2 separate regions of the Homo sapiens genome follow, and region 2 is linked to region 1. A link means that fine-mapping ties the variant in region 1 to the expression of a gene that starts in the linked region. Tissue or cell type: prefrontal cortex. Region 1 holds a variant in brackets; the other region holds the start of a gene. All regions are shown on one strand. Distances are between the middles of the regions.

What was found. PIP is the estimated chance that this variant, and not a neighbour inherited with it, causes the effect.
Region 2: WDR27 starts here. The variant in region 1 is fine-mapped to the expression of WDR27 in prefrontal cortex (CommonMind, PIP 0.91).

Annotation. Positions count from the first base shown.
Region 1 is chr6:169,617,895-169,625,998 of GRCh38, forward strand. All of the region lies in intron 21 of WDR27 (WD repeat domain 27), which reads right to left. Among named protein-coding and RNA genes, the nearest start is that of WDR27, 80 kb to the right of the region's middle. RefSeq lists enhancers at 1,040-1,684, 1,685-2,329, 6,265-6,764. The variant G/A (reference allele first, on the strand shown) is at 3,398.
Region 2 is chr6:169,697,842-169,705,945 of GRCh38, forward strand. It overlaps WDR27 (WD repeat domain 27), which reads right to left and starts at 4,188. Exons shown (of 26, transcript NM_182552.5): 1 at 3,710-4,188. C6orf120 (chromosome 6 open reading frame 120) reads left to right here and starts at 4,285. Exons shown (of 1, transcript NM_001029863.3): 1 at 4,285-8,104. The coding sequence starts at 4,619. The coding sequence ends at 5,194. PHF10 (PHD finger protein 10) reads right to left here. Exons shown (of 12, transcript NM_018288.4): 10 at 7,775-7,883; 11 at 7,292-7,480; 12 at 6,061-6,247. The coding sequence ends at 6,162. RefSeq lists enhancers at 3,742-3,821, 4,142-4,231 and a silencer at 4,282-4,651.

The DNA.
Region 1 (8,104 bases):
GCTCTTCGTTAGAAAAGAAAATGATTTGGGGGCTGTTCTTCATTAAAAGGAAAACCTTAGGGAGGATTCCCATACCTTCATTATCTGCCTAAGTAATTTCTTCTTAACTCCTGTATCATTGCTTCTGAATGGGTACTAGGGAAAGACCCATACCAAATTCAGCAGTGGTTATCAGAGAAGAAGAAAAGGGAGGGATGTGGGTAGGGTTTTCTCTGCATCAATAATCATTTCATTTCCTTTTTAAAAATACAGCAAGATCTAAAACTAATAAAGCAAAATAACATAAGTGACTATTCCTGAAATCTAGAATCATATGTAATAAAATTATTTCATTAAAAAAGCTGTTTAAACTTTTACACATTGTTTTTAATTAAAATTAGCTGTCTAGTATTATGTATTTATATCACAAAATAGTACATATTTTATTCAGAGGCAGGCAAAGAGTAGTATCCTATCAAGTTTTAAAAATATATAAAGTATCTACACCTGCTAGGACTTTAAGGATATCAATAAATCATAAAACACGTATGCATTTTCATTTTTTAAATGAGCCATTTAATAATATAACACATAAAATAGGAAAATATGACCATCACTTTTTGATGCATCTGGCACTCTTGTTAATACAATACTAAAATGAATTTAAAATTCCATTTGTCCAACAGAATTAAGATAACTATAGGAGTAATTCTCAGAAGAGATCATGTTAATGGTGGTGCACTTGGATGACTGCAAAAAAAAAAAAAAAAAAAAAACATTATTGATGCATGACTAATGTGGCTGAGGTGGTTACTAAGCTTAGAAGAAATTAGAAATGCCCTGTTTTATATGTTACTGGAAATACAGCATTTGGGCCAATGATAATTTCTGCTTCTCCTGTATTTGGACTTGTAGGATGACAGTTTGTGAGTAGCAGCCCCCACATGGCTATGGTTAGTTTGATGTACATTGTGCAACTGAACAAAAATGTAAGATAAGTTTTTTTAAAAAAGCTATTAAAAAATAGTGTAAACCTCTGTAACCTTACACTCTTTCCCTTTCATTCCATCAAATACCATTCAGATGTTTATTTTCAGGAAGTAAAACCCGTAATTTTCCCATAAAAAACCTCAGAACTATTTTTCTTAATATAACACCTCTCATCCAAGAGTACACCACAATGATTCACAAAATATTACAATCCCTACTGAAAGACCACATAGATTTGACAGGATTCAGGCTACTGTATAGTCATTGCTCAAGCTGTTGAAAAATGTAGACATTTTAAGCAGTTTCCTAAAGCAAAGACACTAAACCTCTTAACAAAAAGCTAAGATTTTAAAAGAGAGGAACTCTCCTTGAATTGGGAAATTAGACGGTCACCATGTCATTCCAGGAACAAAGCGAGGCACATCTACACAACAATGGCTCTTCACAAGGCCAACTTGTAAAAACAGTCTTCACCACAGCACTTGGAATGAAATATCCTATGCGCCTCTTGTCGACAGAAAGAGTAAAACTCTGTAAAATATTGGAAGAAATTTATTCTGGGCCAAATATGAGTGACCACGGCCCGTGACACAGCCCTCAGGAGGTCCTCAGAACATGTGCCCAAAGTGGTCAGGTGCAGCTTGGTTTTATACATTTTAGGGACGCATGAGACATCAATCAAAGACATTTCAGAAATACACTGGTTTCCCACCTGGGAAAGGCAGGAAAACTCAAAGTGGGGGCTTCCAGGCTCTAGGTAAAAGTAAACATTTTCTGGTTGACAATTGGTTGAGTTTCTCTGAAGACCTGGGATCAATAGAAAGGAAATGTTCAGTTTAAGATAAAAGACTGTGGAGACCAAGGTTCTTTTGAAGCCTCATTAGTGGCTGCCCTTGGAGACAACAGGTGACAAATGTTTCCTGTTCAGATCTTTAAAAGGTGCTAGACTCTTAATCTGTTTAGGATTGGGAGGGCCTGGAAGAAAGAGATCTAGCCATGTTAATAGAGATTCTTCACAGATGCATGACTAATGTGACTGAACTGGTTTTCCCACACAAAGGACAGCTTTGCAGGGCCATTTCGACATATGGCAAAGACACATGTTTTGGAGTGAAATATTTTTATTTTCTTCCTTGTCTTGTAATGTTATGCCAGAGCCAGGTTGGAAAATAAGTCATGATACATAAGGTTAAATAAAACCCATCTGACGAGAATTGATGGTTTTTAAAGCATGACTCCTCAGACCCCTTAATCAGAGCCTAGTCCTCACCCCTTTAGGACACACCTTACCTGCAGGGATGCTGTCTCAGGGAGCCAGCTTGTCCAGATGTCCATCAGGAATGTGACAAGAAAATGAATCTTGGGACCCCCAAATCACTAAGCCAAGGGTAAAGTCAAGCTGGGAACTGCCTCAGGCAAAACCTGCCTCCCATTCTATTCCTAAGTAAGATAGCTACAAAGATAAGAAGCTACAGACCTCCCTCACAATTTGCCCACAAGGAAATTCCTTGTGGACAAAGGACAGTCAGAACTCAAAGACATCCCTCCGAGGCTTCCCTGAAACAAATGCGTATCTCATTGCTTCCTCTCCCCTATTGTTTATGTAAAAATGATGATTCACTGAGCTAGACTAAATTGTGTATTCAGTGGAAAGCTGATCAAGGACTCAAAAGAATGTAACCTTTTGCCTCTTATCTACTCATGACCTGGAAGCCCTCGCCTCAAATCCCACTTTACCTGACTGAACCAAAGTACATGGTACACATATTGATTGATATCTCATGTCTCCCTAAAATGTATAAAACCAAGCGGTGCCCCGACCACCATCGTCAGGAACTCCTGATGCTATGTCATGGGTGCATCCTTAACCTTGGTGAAATAAACTTTCTAAACTGACCGAGACCTGTCTTAGATATTTTGATTTAACAAGGGGCTCGAGGTCCACCCCTCCACCGGCTTCACCACACAGTCCACCTCCTGTACTCTGCTCCTCCAGACATAGACATAGACCTGCTCCTCCTGCACTCTGCTCCTCCAGACATAGACCTGGCACCCTTCCCTGTGTCATGAACCTGCTGCTCTAGTTACCTGGTCAGCACAGAGCACCTGACCTTGTGTAATACACGTGTTCCTATGTAAGAAAATACAATTCTTGAGCACAAGGACTTTGCCCTCACTTCATCTAACTCTTCATTCACAGAACACTGCCAAGTGCACAGCAGCAGCTAATAGATATTTTAAATGAATTAATTAATAGGCACTTTAATGAATACTATAATTAAAAGCACATATACATATGCATACACATGCATGCACATATACATACATACACCCATGCACGCTCGCATATGCATATACACACACATGCACACAGGCATATACATACCCACACATACATTCATGCATACACACACACACACACATGCAC[G/A]CACGCATATACATACCCACACACGCATTCACACATATACATACGCACACACATGCATGTAGACATACGCACACATGCATGCATGTAGACATACGCACACACATGCACACATGCCTATACATACACACACGCGCATTCACACATATACATATGCACACATGCACACACACATATACATATGCACATGTGCATGCACACATATACATACCCACACATGCATTCACACATATACATACACACACACGCACGCATATACATACACACACGCATTCATGCATATACATACACATGCACGCACGCATATACATACCCACACATGCATTCACGCATATACATACCCACACATGCATATACATACCCACACATTCATTCACGCATATACATACCCACACATGCATATACATACCCACACATGCATTCACGCATATACACATTCACACATATACATACACACACACACGCACACATATATACAGACGCACACACATGCATGCATGCATATACATACCCACACATGCATTCATACATATACACACGTATTCACGCATATACACACATATTCACGCATATACATATGAACACACTCAGGCATTCACACACAGGCACATATACTTGCACACATATACACACTGTGAAAGGAAAATAAATCTCTGGGCCCCCAAATCACCAAGCTAAAGGGAAAAAGTCAAGCTAGGAACTGCTTAGGGCCAACCTGCCTCCCATTCTATTCAAAGTCACCCCTCTGCTCACTGAGATAAATGCAGATCTGACTGCCCCCTTTGGAAAGACTCATCAGAAACTCAAAAGAATGCAACCATTTGTCCCTTATGTACCCAGGACCTGAAGGTCCCCTCCCTGATTTGTGTCTTCCTGCCTTTGCTTCGAGTTGTCCCACCTTTCCAGACCGAAGCAATGTTCATCTTATGTATGTTGACTGATGTCTCATGTCTCCCTAGAACGTGTGAAATCAAACTGTGTTCTGACCACCTCGGGCAAATGTCGTCAGGACCTCCTGAGGCTGTGTCACGGCACCCATCCCCAACCTGGGCAAAATAAACTTTCCAGTTTCACTGAAACCTGCCTCAGATGTTCAGGGTTCACACACACGCACATACAAACCAAATTTAAGGTGGGAGGAAATGAGCAGTGGTATATTTAACTGCTATTAGGAACAGGTATTGAATTAAGAGTTCAGCCCAAAGTCAGACTGTTAACACTTTACTCTCCATGGCCATTTCACTGAATGTTTATAGAAAAAAACAGAACCACTTGGAAAACAATATGAATAAAACAATCTCCACAAAGAGATGAAGAAATGACTGAAAACGAAGTTTAACATAAAATCTATTATTCATTATTTTTACCAGAGCTATAAAAACAGGAAACTTTTCAAAGAAGTGATATTTTTACTGTGTCCCTCCTCAGGAGAGCACTGCAGTGTTTCGACACGGGAGAAGCGTCCCGGTGAAACAGCCATTGCAAAATTACAACTGAGACAGTGAAAGAAACCTGACCTAACCAGCTCTATCTTGCTTCTAACCTCCAAGCCGTCCTTTTCATTCCTGGGCTGAGGCCAAACTAACTTGGGGAGGAACTTATAGTTTAGCTTTGAAACAAAGATGGTAACAACCCTTTCCCAAAACAAATCCCCTTCTTGCCTGGGGACCAGACTGCCTTTGTAGGACCTACAAATTAGCTCAAAGATTAGAAATTATGGTTTAGGAGTAATGTAGCTGGAGGCTACAAGATTCTGACCACCTCCCCCACCCCTACCCAAAATTGCTCCTGGGGATAACATCACTATTGTAAAACCTAAGATCAGTGCTTGAGATATTTTGCATACCCTGCACTGAATGGATCAGCTGGTACCCCACCCGATCAATAAACTGGTTCAGCTGGTCGTGCGGCCCCCACCCAGGAACTCACTCAGCACAAGAGGACAGCTTTGACTCCTGATGATTTCACCTCTGACCTGACCAATCAGAACTCGTGATTCACTGACTCCACCCACCCACCAAATTATCCTTAAAAACTCCCACCCCCAGATTCCTGGGGAGACTGATTGGAGTCATAATAAAACTCCAGTCTCCCATACAGCCGTCTCTGTGTGAATTACCCTTTCTCTATTGCAATTCCCCTGTCTTGATCAACTGGCTCTATCTAGGCAGCAGACAAGGTGAACCATTGGGCGGTTACCCCAGTGGCTCAGCTGTGGCCCTCAGCCAGTGACGGCACCACTCACCGGGCCCGCAGGCTTCACACAGAAGTCACAGCCTGCGTACCCACTCACATGCAGAGACAGTGAGGGTCCAGCCAGGGTGCCCAAGAGAGCCATGGTGGGGGAGCATCAACAACCCACATTTGGGATGAATTATTCTGAACCGTTTAGAAGAAAAACTGGTCATTTACTTATTTATTTTGTTTTTAATTGACCCATAAGAACTGCACATATTTTGGGGTACAGCATGGTGTTTTGACACACACGTGAGGCCCCAATCATGGGATTTAGCACATTGAAAACTCCTCCCAACGGCTACTCAGTGCCAGCCTGGGCCTGTTTTCCTCACACTGGCTGAGGGCACACTTCTCTAGGTCCTAGTAAATGAGCCTAGGAGTGACACAGCCTGAGCAAAAAGAAGGTAGACACAAACACAAACAGCAAAACCAGCTAACAGGCAGCCACCCACGAGGCGAGGTGAACACCAGACACAGGATTGGGGACATGGGGCCCTGGAGACACCACATGCCGCGTGTGGGGTCAGGTGTGCCGTGTGTGGGGTCAGGTGTGCCGTGTGCAGCATGTGGCATCAGGTGTGCCGTGTGTGGGGTCAGGTGTGTGGTGTCAGGTGTGCCGTGTGGGGCGTCAGGTGTGTGGCGTCAGGTGTGCAGCGTGTGGCATCAGGTGTGCGGCATGTGGCAGGTGTTCCGTGTGCGCATCAGGTGTGCCATGTGGGGCGTCAGGTGCGCAGTGTGTGGCGTGTGGTGTCAGGTGTGTGGCGTCAGGTGTGTGGCATCAGGTGTGCGGCGTGTGGCATCAGATACACTCTGGATCCGAGGACAAAGAACACCCACGAGAACCTTCCAGGTGTGCAAAAGGAGATTCGAAGCTCACCAGAGTGCAGCCCCTCATGCGTCTCTCTCAAGCTCGAGTGACTTAGTGAATGAAACGCTCGTGTCCACTCGGAACTGCTTAGGGAGCCGGAGGGAGGCTGGGCTGTGCCCTGGTGCCATCCCCGATCCCCCTCAGCCCAGCCAGGGACATGCAGGACCTAAATCGAAAACAGCCATCGACCGTTTCCAGGGAGTCAGGTGACCTCCCAAGTTCTCTAATAACTAAAGAAAACTTCATTAATTTTCATAAATAAAAAGGATAAAGTAACCAATTTAATTAAATAATTTTCCCATGAGAGTTTGACAACCACTGAGAAGAGAGCTCACCTGACCGTCAACTAGAGCCCTTGCTGTGGCCTGTGACTGATGCCTGGCCCATGAGACACGTGAGCCGCAGCCATGCAACCCCATGGGATGAAAAATTCGAGATGTGTGTTCACTGCAGCTCCAGGTAGATGGCACGAGACCAGGAACACAGGTTCCCTTGAGTCAGAGCATGGAGAGTACAAGAGCAGCCGTCCCACAGCCTGGCTGGGCAGTCAACTGTGGCAGCCCTCACCCTCGGGGCCCGGCCCATCCACTGAGGGGACCTGCAAGATGCAACTCCTGTTCTAGGCTTCACTTGGCATCTGGAATAAACACACACGTAGCTGCTTCTCTTATGTCACCACTATGGAAAGCCAAAGGCTGAGTCCTGGAGTGTCCGCGCCAGCAGCAGGTCATGGAGTTCTTCTGGGTCCACGATGGCCCTGCTGAAATACTGAAAAAGGAAGGCAGATCCAACGGTTGTAACTCAAACAGGCCCCTTAAAACTGCCAGGACTGGGCTTGGACTAAGCAAGCAATTTTTGAGCACCGACTGTATGCTAGTAACGGATGGCTCTGTCCTCAAGATGAGACTCTCACAGGAGAGAGGATTAATTCCACGTCATTCCGACTGCACTGATGAGCCCTGGAACAGCAGTGTAGACACAAGACCAAGTAAGGGGCCGAGTCCAACTACTGAGAGGCCAGGGAGGCCTCCTGGGGTGGTGGTGGAGACTGAGCCTGGACAGTCGGAAGGGTCTGCCCGTGACCCGGGCCACAGAGCAAGAGCACAGACAGAGTGCAGCTGGCGGACGCTCAGCTCCATCTTCTGAGAGCCCTGGGCTGAAGTGCCGGGGACCAGGCCCGACGGGGTCAGTCCTGTGTCTCAGAGTCAGCCCCGTTCACTGGGCTCACTGTCAGGTGGGTGCAGTCAGGAAACCGGCAGGCAGGTGCAGTCGGGAAACCAGTGTGGAGCCTTAGCTGCTCCATGGGGTCAGAGCTTAGGTGCCAGTGGTGCCTGCTCAGATCTCACGCCGGCACCCCTACTCCGTCTGGGGCTCTGGGGGGGATGAGGATGCCCCGTGCTCCACGTTCATGATGCTGTGACTCTGAGACCAGAGCCCGCCTCTTCTCAGCAGATAGAGCATGTGTGTCACATGGGAGCTGGCCCTGATGCCCTCCTGTGACTGTCCAGGCCACCACAGAAGCCAACCAGGGTGTGAGAGAATGGCCCAGCCCAGCAGCCCGGGCTTCATGTGGGCGCCAAGCTTGAGACTGGGTCTGAGGCGTC
Region 2 (8,104 bases), 80 kb after region 1:
ACTACCGGTCTCCGTGACTTGGTGGTAGTGGTCCCCCGGGCCCAGCTGTCTTTTATCTCTTTGTCTTGTGTCTTTATTTCTACACTCGTCCCCGCGCACGGGGAGAGACCCACTGACCCTGCGGGCTGGTCCCTACAGGCAGAATATGAATGTGCTTGCATTTCCTGATGAGTGCATAGTAAAGAAATAACACCATGACTCACTAGTATGAAGAGTTCACAGAAACAATGGTGTGAAGCCAAGGAGGGAAGGAAGCCTTGTCAGGACACATAAGCCACCTTGACGAGGAAGCACCAGCCTGCACTCAGAATTTCTGGGTCAGTCTGGCCCCAGTGTGCACGAGCTGATGTCCCACCTCTCCAGCTGCCCAACACCTCTGTTCCTCAGTGTTCTCAGCTTCAATGCCTACCTCTGCCTCAGTGTATTCGGCTTCAATGCCTACCTCTGCCTCAGTGTACTCGGCTTTAATGCCTACCTCTCCTGCCTCTCCTGCTCCATGGCAGGGTGGTACAGACAGGGATGAGGGAGGGTCTGGTGCAGGCAGAAACATCGTCAGGGACACACCGACACACACACACACATACACACACGTGTCCACGTCGAGAACATGAGTCCAGGGCAGCTAACTGAAGTGCAACCTATCCTCCCATTGAACAGAGGTCAGATGGCCCCTAAAATCATTTGTGTAAAAAGTTATTTTTCTATATGTTAAAATATTCATTTTTCTATTTCTGTGGTCTGGCAGTTTTCCCCAAGCTCTTTCTGCTTCTTCCCTGGAGCCACTAAGAACATGGCTGGACCACATTTCCAGCCTCTGAAGTCGAGGGCAGCCGTGCACCAATTTCTGGTCTGGAAAGCACACCATGCATGCACAGGCTTGGTCCTGTCACAGCCCGTGCACAGCCCTTCATGCTGGAGGCGGAGGGCTCCAAAGGCTGAGGAGAGGGGCCACGGTGGTGGCACCTGGCAGCCTGTGCTGCTCCCACTAAAGGGTGATCAGGACACCAGGCTGGACTGTTGTGTAAGCAAGAGAGAAACATTTAGTGCATGAAGCTGAGGTCACTTCTGTCAGCCTACCTTGACTGATGTGGGTACCTTGAAGCAGGATGCTTCAGTGACACTGTAGGATGTTGCTGAGTGACTGAGTGATGGGGCACAGAAACAAATTCAGGAGGGGAAAAGCTCAAGACTCACGTTAGGCAGTGACAAACAGGTTCAACTGCAACAACCTGTAATAACGCAGAAAACTTACCACAGGCTTACTCTCCTGCAGCCCTACAGGAAATTATTGCAAAGAATACGCATTAGCAGCCAACACACGGAATTGGACTAGAGAACTGGCTGGTGTGCAAGCGGAATGGACACGAAAAGAAAGTACGAAGAGCAGGGGCTGCAGCACTGGGAAACCTGAGTGCCCTGAGAGGCTGCAGGGAGGGACAAAGGACCATCAGGTCTTGGCCCTTCAGCAAAGATCTGACCTAGGATGGCTACCTTCCCACTCAAGCCTTTGTTCCACATAACCTCAGGGTATCAGCTGCCCAGGAGACCAAAAGAAAATAAAGTCAGGCTTGAACAGTAGACACAGGAAGAACGACAATGGCATCACCAGCACACAGAGCTGACGAGATACACACAGACCAGAAGCTGCTGTGCTCGTGAGGACACGATGAAGCCTAAGAAGTATCAAGCAAAGAACAGAGTAAGGGCACACGGTGGGCTCAGGGCTGACTGCCTGGTCCCCACTGCCATGCTCCAGGAGTGAGCTATGGCAGCCTTCCAAGACAGCATCCTCATAGCCACATCAGATGAGACCGTGGAGGAAAAGGACTAAGGGTAGAATCAAGGGCCTCAGCAAACAAGCCAGGCACAGTGGCTCACATCTGCAATCCCAGCACTTTGTGGGGCCGAGGCAGAAGGATCACTTGAGCCCAGGAGTTCAAGACCAGCCTGGGCAACATAGTGAGACCCTGTCTCTACTTTAAAAAAAAAAAGTAGTCAGGTGTGGCAGTGCATGCTTGTAGCCCCAGCTGCTGGGGAGGCTGAGGTGGGAGGATCGTTTGAGCCACGGAGGTTGAAGCTATAGTGAGCTGTGATTGTGCCACTCTACTTCAACCTGGACAACAGTGACATCCTGTCTCAAAGGAAAGAAAAAGAACAATGGACAAGGGAATTCCTCCCAGATAGCAGAATCAGGGTCTAGTTGGGAAATTCCTCCCACCTCCACCCCAGCATCACTTCAAAACTGCTATAGACCAGTGTCTGCCATGTGTCTCCCTTTTCCAAAAGGGAGATGGTTACAAAAACCATGGTCATATTTAACCACTGCATTTTAGTGGGGAGAGCAACTAGTTTGTCTTCTTAGTCCATAGGGCTCTGGACCACGAGGAACCACAGCCAGGCCTGATGGAGAGAACTGTGCAATCCTGAGAAATGTTCTGTGTTGCACTAGGCACCTTGACAAAGTGTCCCCCTTGGGGTGGGGAGAGTGTGTTCTCCATGTGGGATCAAGAGTGGAGCAGAGATCTGGTCACCAGAAGAGAGACTACGGTAAGTGCTGTTCCTTTTCCACTAAGCCACTTCCCTTTCCTTCTAGACACAGAACTAAACTACACTCCCTAGCTTCCCTTGCAATTAAGTGCAGCCATGTAGTCGTTGAGTGCCTGGCCCATAAATTCCTCCTGCACTGCCTCTCTTCTTTCCCCACCCACTGGCTAAATGCGGAGAATTCAGAGGGCCTAAGGAAAAAAACCACAACATGGAAGAATTTTAGGCTGCAGCTTGCAGAGAGCTGCCCAAAGGAATCGTCTGACTAGAAACCGCTACACAGGACTGTGTGAGCAAGAAACATGCAACTGTTCTATTGGGGTGAATTGCTACAGCACTTAACCTACCTCCACTAATATAAATTGTTTAACATTTTTTTGAATTACAAAAGCAATACAATACAAAACATTTAAACAATGCAGAAATAATAAAGTTTTTTATCCCTACCTCCTCTCCCTGCTGTGCCAACCCTAGGGGATAATCAATGTCACAGGATATCCCCAGGAATATCCATGTACATACATGCACAGAACAAGTCAGGGAAAATAAACTAAATTTATTATTTTAGTGAGATTCTAGTGCACCTAACACTAGGTAAGCACTTCAGGAAAAGGCAGTGACAAGTGATTGCTAAAGATACCATAGTCTTAAAGTTAAGTCAGTAAACACAAGATAGTAATCCCAGATAAACTGGAAGCTGTAGAGTTAATACTCCTTTACTGGTACAGAGCAGTGTGTGTAAATTGTAGAAAATTTAGAAATACATAAAAAGATGAAAACTCTACTACTCGAGGAGTACCACTGATAAAATCCTGTGCATTTCCGTTTTTTTAATGTACATACGAATATTTTTAAAAAGAGAAAATTACTCCCTTCTGATTAGAAAAGATCGAAATTTTTCTCTTTTAGTGATAATCAAGTCAGAAACTTGCTGTTTGGCTCGAGTTAGGAAAACCTAGCCTGGTAGTTACCACGCAGGTTGAAAGGCCAGTGGGGCATAATTAACGAGCCCTCAGGGTCCACGCTCCCGCCCTCGGAGCTCAGAACCGACGGGAGGTGCAGGAGGCCGGGCATTTCTACAGCCCTGGTTCGTTCCTAAACTACTGAATCTTTTAAAGAGATCTGAGTGCTCCTTATACACAGCTGCTTTAATTAAAATAACCACCTGAGCCCTTTTCCTCCGAACTCCACATGCGCTCAGTTCTCAAAGCGCCGATCTCAAGCGGCCGCCCGGATGCTCCGGCCCGACTTGTGCCCCGAATTCCCCTGGAGACCCTCGCACTAGCACGGCGTCAGGAGGAGGCTTCGGGTGACGAGACAGCGGGCAACGGCTCTGGTCCAGAGCGCGCGTGTCCGCCGTTGGAAGCGGTCACGGCGGAACCCTCAAATCGCCCCCTTTCCTAGAGACCTCAGCGGAGCCGCGAGCAACCGCGCAGCCCCCGCGCTCCAGCCCTGCGCCCTAGGCACACGCCCCAGAGCAGCAGCTCGGGTTCGGCGCCGACTCCGCGCCGAGACCAGCCCGCTAGGGGAGGACTCACAGCACCCAGCTCCCAGGAGGGCACGCAGAGGACTACCGAGCCACACTCCGCCCCACGCTCGCCGCTATGGTTACTTGCCAGCCGACCCACGCGAGCCGCTATGGTTACTAGCCCGCCGCCCCTCGCGCCCACGCCCCTTTCGCTATCTCGCGACAGCTGGAGAAGCCTCGCTTCCGGCCGGCTCACTTACGGACCTAGCGTCACTTCCGCCTCCGGCGAGGCTCCGGCCTCGGGTCCGGATGTATAAAGCGCGGCCCCCTGCGGGGAGTGGTGGTGAGTCCGAGGGTGCCACAGCGGCCCTGCCCCTGCCCCTGCCCCTGCCCTGAGTGGGCGCCGCGCTACGGGGGAGGGGTTAACCCACCCCTCCTCCCCGGGGCCTCACGCGGGTGGGAAGGGACAGTCCCAGCGACAGACCAGGCGCCTGGACGCGCCGTGGACCCGCGTGCGGACGGCGGGGACAGGCTCCGGTGCTGAGCGCCTCCGGTGTCCCCAGCAGCACTGACCCACTTGCAGGCCCCGGAGCTGAGCCGCCAGCCATGGCCGCTCCCCGCGGGAGGGCCGCGCCCTGGACGACGGCCCTGCTGCTGCTCCTAGCCTCGCAGGTCCTGTCTCCGGGAAGCTGCGCGGACGAGGAGGAGGTCCCCGAGGAGTGGGTGCTCCTGCACGTCGTCCAGGGCCAGATAGGCGCCGGGAACTACAGCTACCTGCGGCTGAACCACGAGGGCAAGATAGTCCTCAGGATGCGCAGCCTCAAGGGAGATGCGGATCTGTACGTCTCCGCCAGCAGCCTGCACCCCAGCTTCGACGACTACGAGCTGCAATCGGCCACCTGCGGCCCGGACGCCGTGTCCATCCCCGCGCACTTCCGGCGCCCAGTGGGCATCGGCGTCTATGGACACCCCTCCCACCTGGAGAGCGAGTTCGAGATGAAGGTGTACTACGACGGCACGGTCGAGCAGCACCCGTTCGGCGAGGCCGCCTACCCCGCCGACGGCGCAGATGCCGGCCAGAAGCACGCTGGTGCCCCGGAAGACGCCTCGCAAGAGGAGGAATCTGTTCTCTGGACGATATTAATTAGCATTTTGAAACTGGTACTTGAAATTCTCTTTTGAGTCGTTGACCACACTCTGGGATATAAAACCCTCCATCTGTGAAGCTGATTGCAGTTTGCTGTGAACCTTGCTACTTGTACTTGGTTGAAGTTCTAGGTACCTTTAGTCAAGGGATGGAAAAATAAAGCCATACGCAGTTTTGTTACCTCAGTTACCCCAAAAATAGGAAAAGCAGCAAGCACAGTATTTTAAAGATCATAATTCCTATAAAAGGACTGTGCACAAAGTGTTTAGACTCCATTTTCATTAGGCAGGTTGACTAAAAATGATTGCAGTAACAGGTTTATATAAAATAGAGCAACCTTTCATGCTGTGACACAAATCAAAAGGTTGATAACTTTGTAATTTTACTCTGGAGATTCTAACCGAAGTTGGTGTAAGTTTTCAAGAGTTACTAAAATCAAGTTGGAAATGATTTACGTACACTTCCCTGAGCCTGGACTAAAGCCTCATGCCTGTACCCCAAGTAGGTGATGGTACTTTTCTATACAAAAAGGATTTCCTGGCAGGCAGGTATTTACAAAGTTTGTTCCTGTACCAGTCCAATAATGACAACTCTAAATCCAGCTGCACCAAATCTTAGTGGGCCATTTGTCATACCTATGAAAATTCTTCAGTTATTAAATAACTTTGTCAGTGCTACCTATGGTAGGCCGGAAACAATGTAGATTAGGAAGTTTCATGAAAATTAACTTTTGGGGCTATGGAGAAACAGTTAAGTATCTTAAGTTACTAAACATTTCCACTGAATTTTTGGAGTGAGCCAAGGTTACTATAAAATACTTTGGAAGATGAATTCTCTACCTGGAGTTAGTTTCGAGAGTAAGCGTAGCTTTTAACAGAAATAACTGCAGATTTTAAGCTCATAATTTGCAAAAAAAATCTTTTATTGGCATGAAAATAATGTTGTAAATGGCACCAAATATTCCACTTAAATGCATATACAGTATTAGAGTCAAAAACTATTTTATCCCTCTTTGCTGTTTTTCCCCCTTCTGCCCACTTTCCTGGGTGTTGGGGGGGCCCGCTGACAACAGTCACAAATCCAGCGACCTAGGAAAAAAATTGTTAATATAGAATGAAAAATTATCTTTACAGGACTGAATTTTAAGCCCATCTAAACTCTTCTGCCTTAGCTATCACTAATGATATTCCTCTCTGGATTTTGTGGTGAGAAGGGCACTATGAGTTCCTTAATTTAAGGAAAAAATGTAAACTTAATCAATGTAATCAATGCCATGCAAAATTCATTGCAAGTCAAGGGGGATGGGAGAGATGCAATGCCATACGGTGATACGGACCTTTAAGAAAGTACAATCTTTCCTGAAATTCAAACACTATCATACTTCAAAAGGTCAAAACCCATTCCGGAATTTGGCTTTTTTAAGACTTTTTCTCTCCTGCTCACTGGCAGCTGTGTGTCTTAACAGCATTCTTTCAAGTCCTGGTGTACTCTGCTGACAGCACTTTAAAACTTTAACAGCACAATGATAACTTGTACTACATACTTGATCTGAATTACTACAGAAAAATAATTATGTTGCTTGCTTAATGATTCCCAGGAAACTTCGTTGTAGGCATATATTTTATAAGAGTATTATACAGTGTTAACTATGCAAGTAAGTTCTAAAATTACACAATTATCTGTGTAATGTTTTAGTCCAATTACTGTGATTTATTCAACTCTGTTCTAAAGTTATCTGGAATTGTCATGCTGCCTCAATTTACAGAAATCTATAATAGATTTCTATAGAAATGTATAAAGACGTAGCAGTCATTTTGTTGTTTCTAAATAGATAACATATAAAAATAAAGGCTTTGTTACTTTAGTATTTCAGTAGAAAAACACCAGCTCATTCTATAGAACTATACTTCCAAAACTTAGCAGGGGCATTCTGGCCTTTCACTTATCCTTTAGTTGGAATTGTCTAGGGATGAAAAGCTGGTGGACATGACCTGTATAATCACAGCTTTGGTCATATTTGCACATAAGAGTCCACAAGCTCTTCATGTCATGATAGCGTTTATGCAGCCTTTTGGAGTGCTGGGAGAGTCTCATCACCCAAAGATAATGTTTGCTCTTTTTTTAATCTTTACCTGATGGAATAGCACCAAGGCCCACACAAAAAGTATGATAACCTCTGTCACACATATCACAGAACATCATTTCTTCTTCATGGTGGGGTTGTCCACATATAATGCATGTTTTACATTCCATACACTGCCATGGGTAGGTCTTAATCATAGAAACAAGCTCCATTGTCATATCCAGGCAAGAAGGATGGCCTAAATCAAAACCAGTATTAGTGGTATCTCACATAAGAAATTTTAACTTAATATGGCACATAAAATACTAGTTTGCTTTAGGACTTCCAGAGAATGGCTATAATGTCAAATCGCCAAAGAGAAATGAATATACAATGTAGAGGAAAACACATGGGCTGTGTCTATGCCTCACAAGCTACCCTGTGTATTTAATTTGGTGACTCTTTGGTTGAAATCTGCCTGAAACTATAAATTCTAGTTTTTGAACCAATAAATACGGTGGTTAAAATTTTAAAAAGACATTTCAATACTTACCACTATTCTCACATTGGGAGCAGTGTATAAGTGATTCAGCCTTTCCTTTCTTGTTGGACTCCTTACCCTTCAGACAAATTCCACATATAGCATTTGGAATGACCTTTGGCTGGAAGGGTAGAAGAGGGCTATAAATTCATGCCAGAAGAGCTTACTATGGGTTTAAAAGGAATTCTGTTACTTTATTGCCCTATTTTTACTTTTGGTAACTTGCTAATGAGGACCATTTTGAAAGACAAAACTTGACAGGAGTCTGCCTACAATGTAAGACTGCCTACTGAAGAAAGCATTAATTTCATCATAAAATTTGGTAAACAGCATGATCTCGTA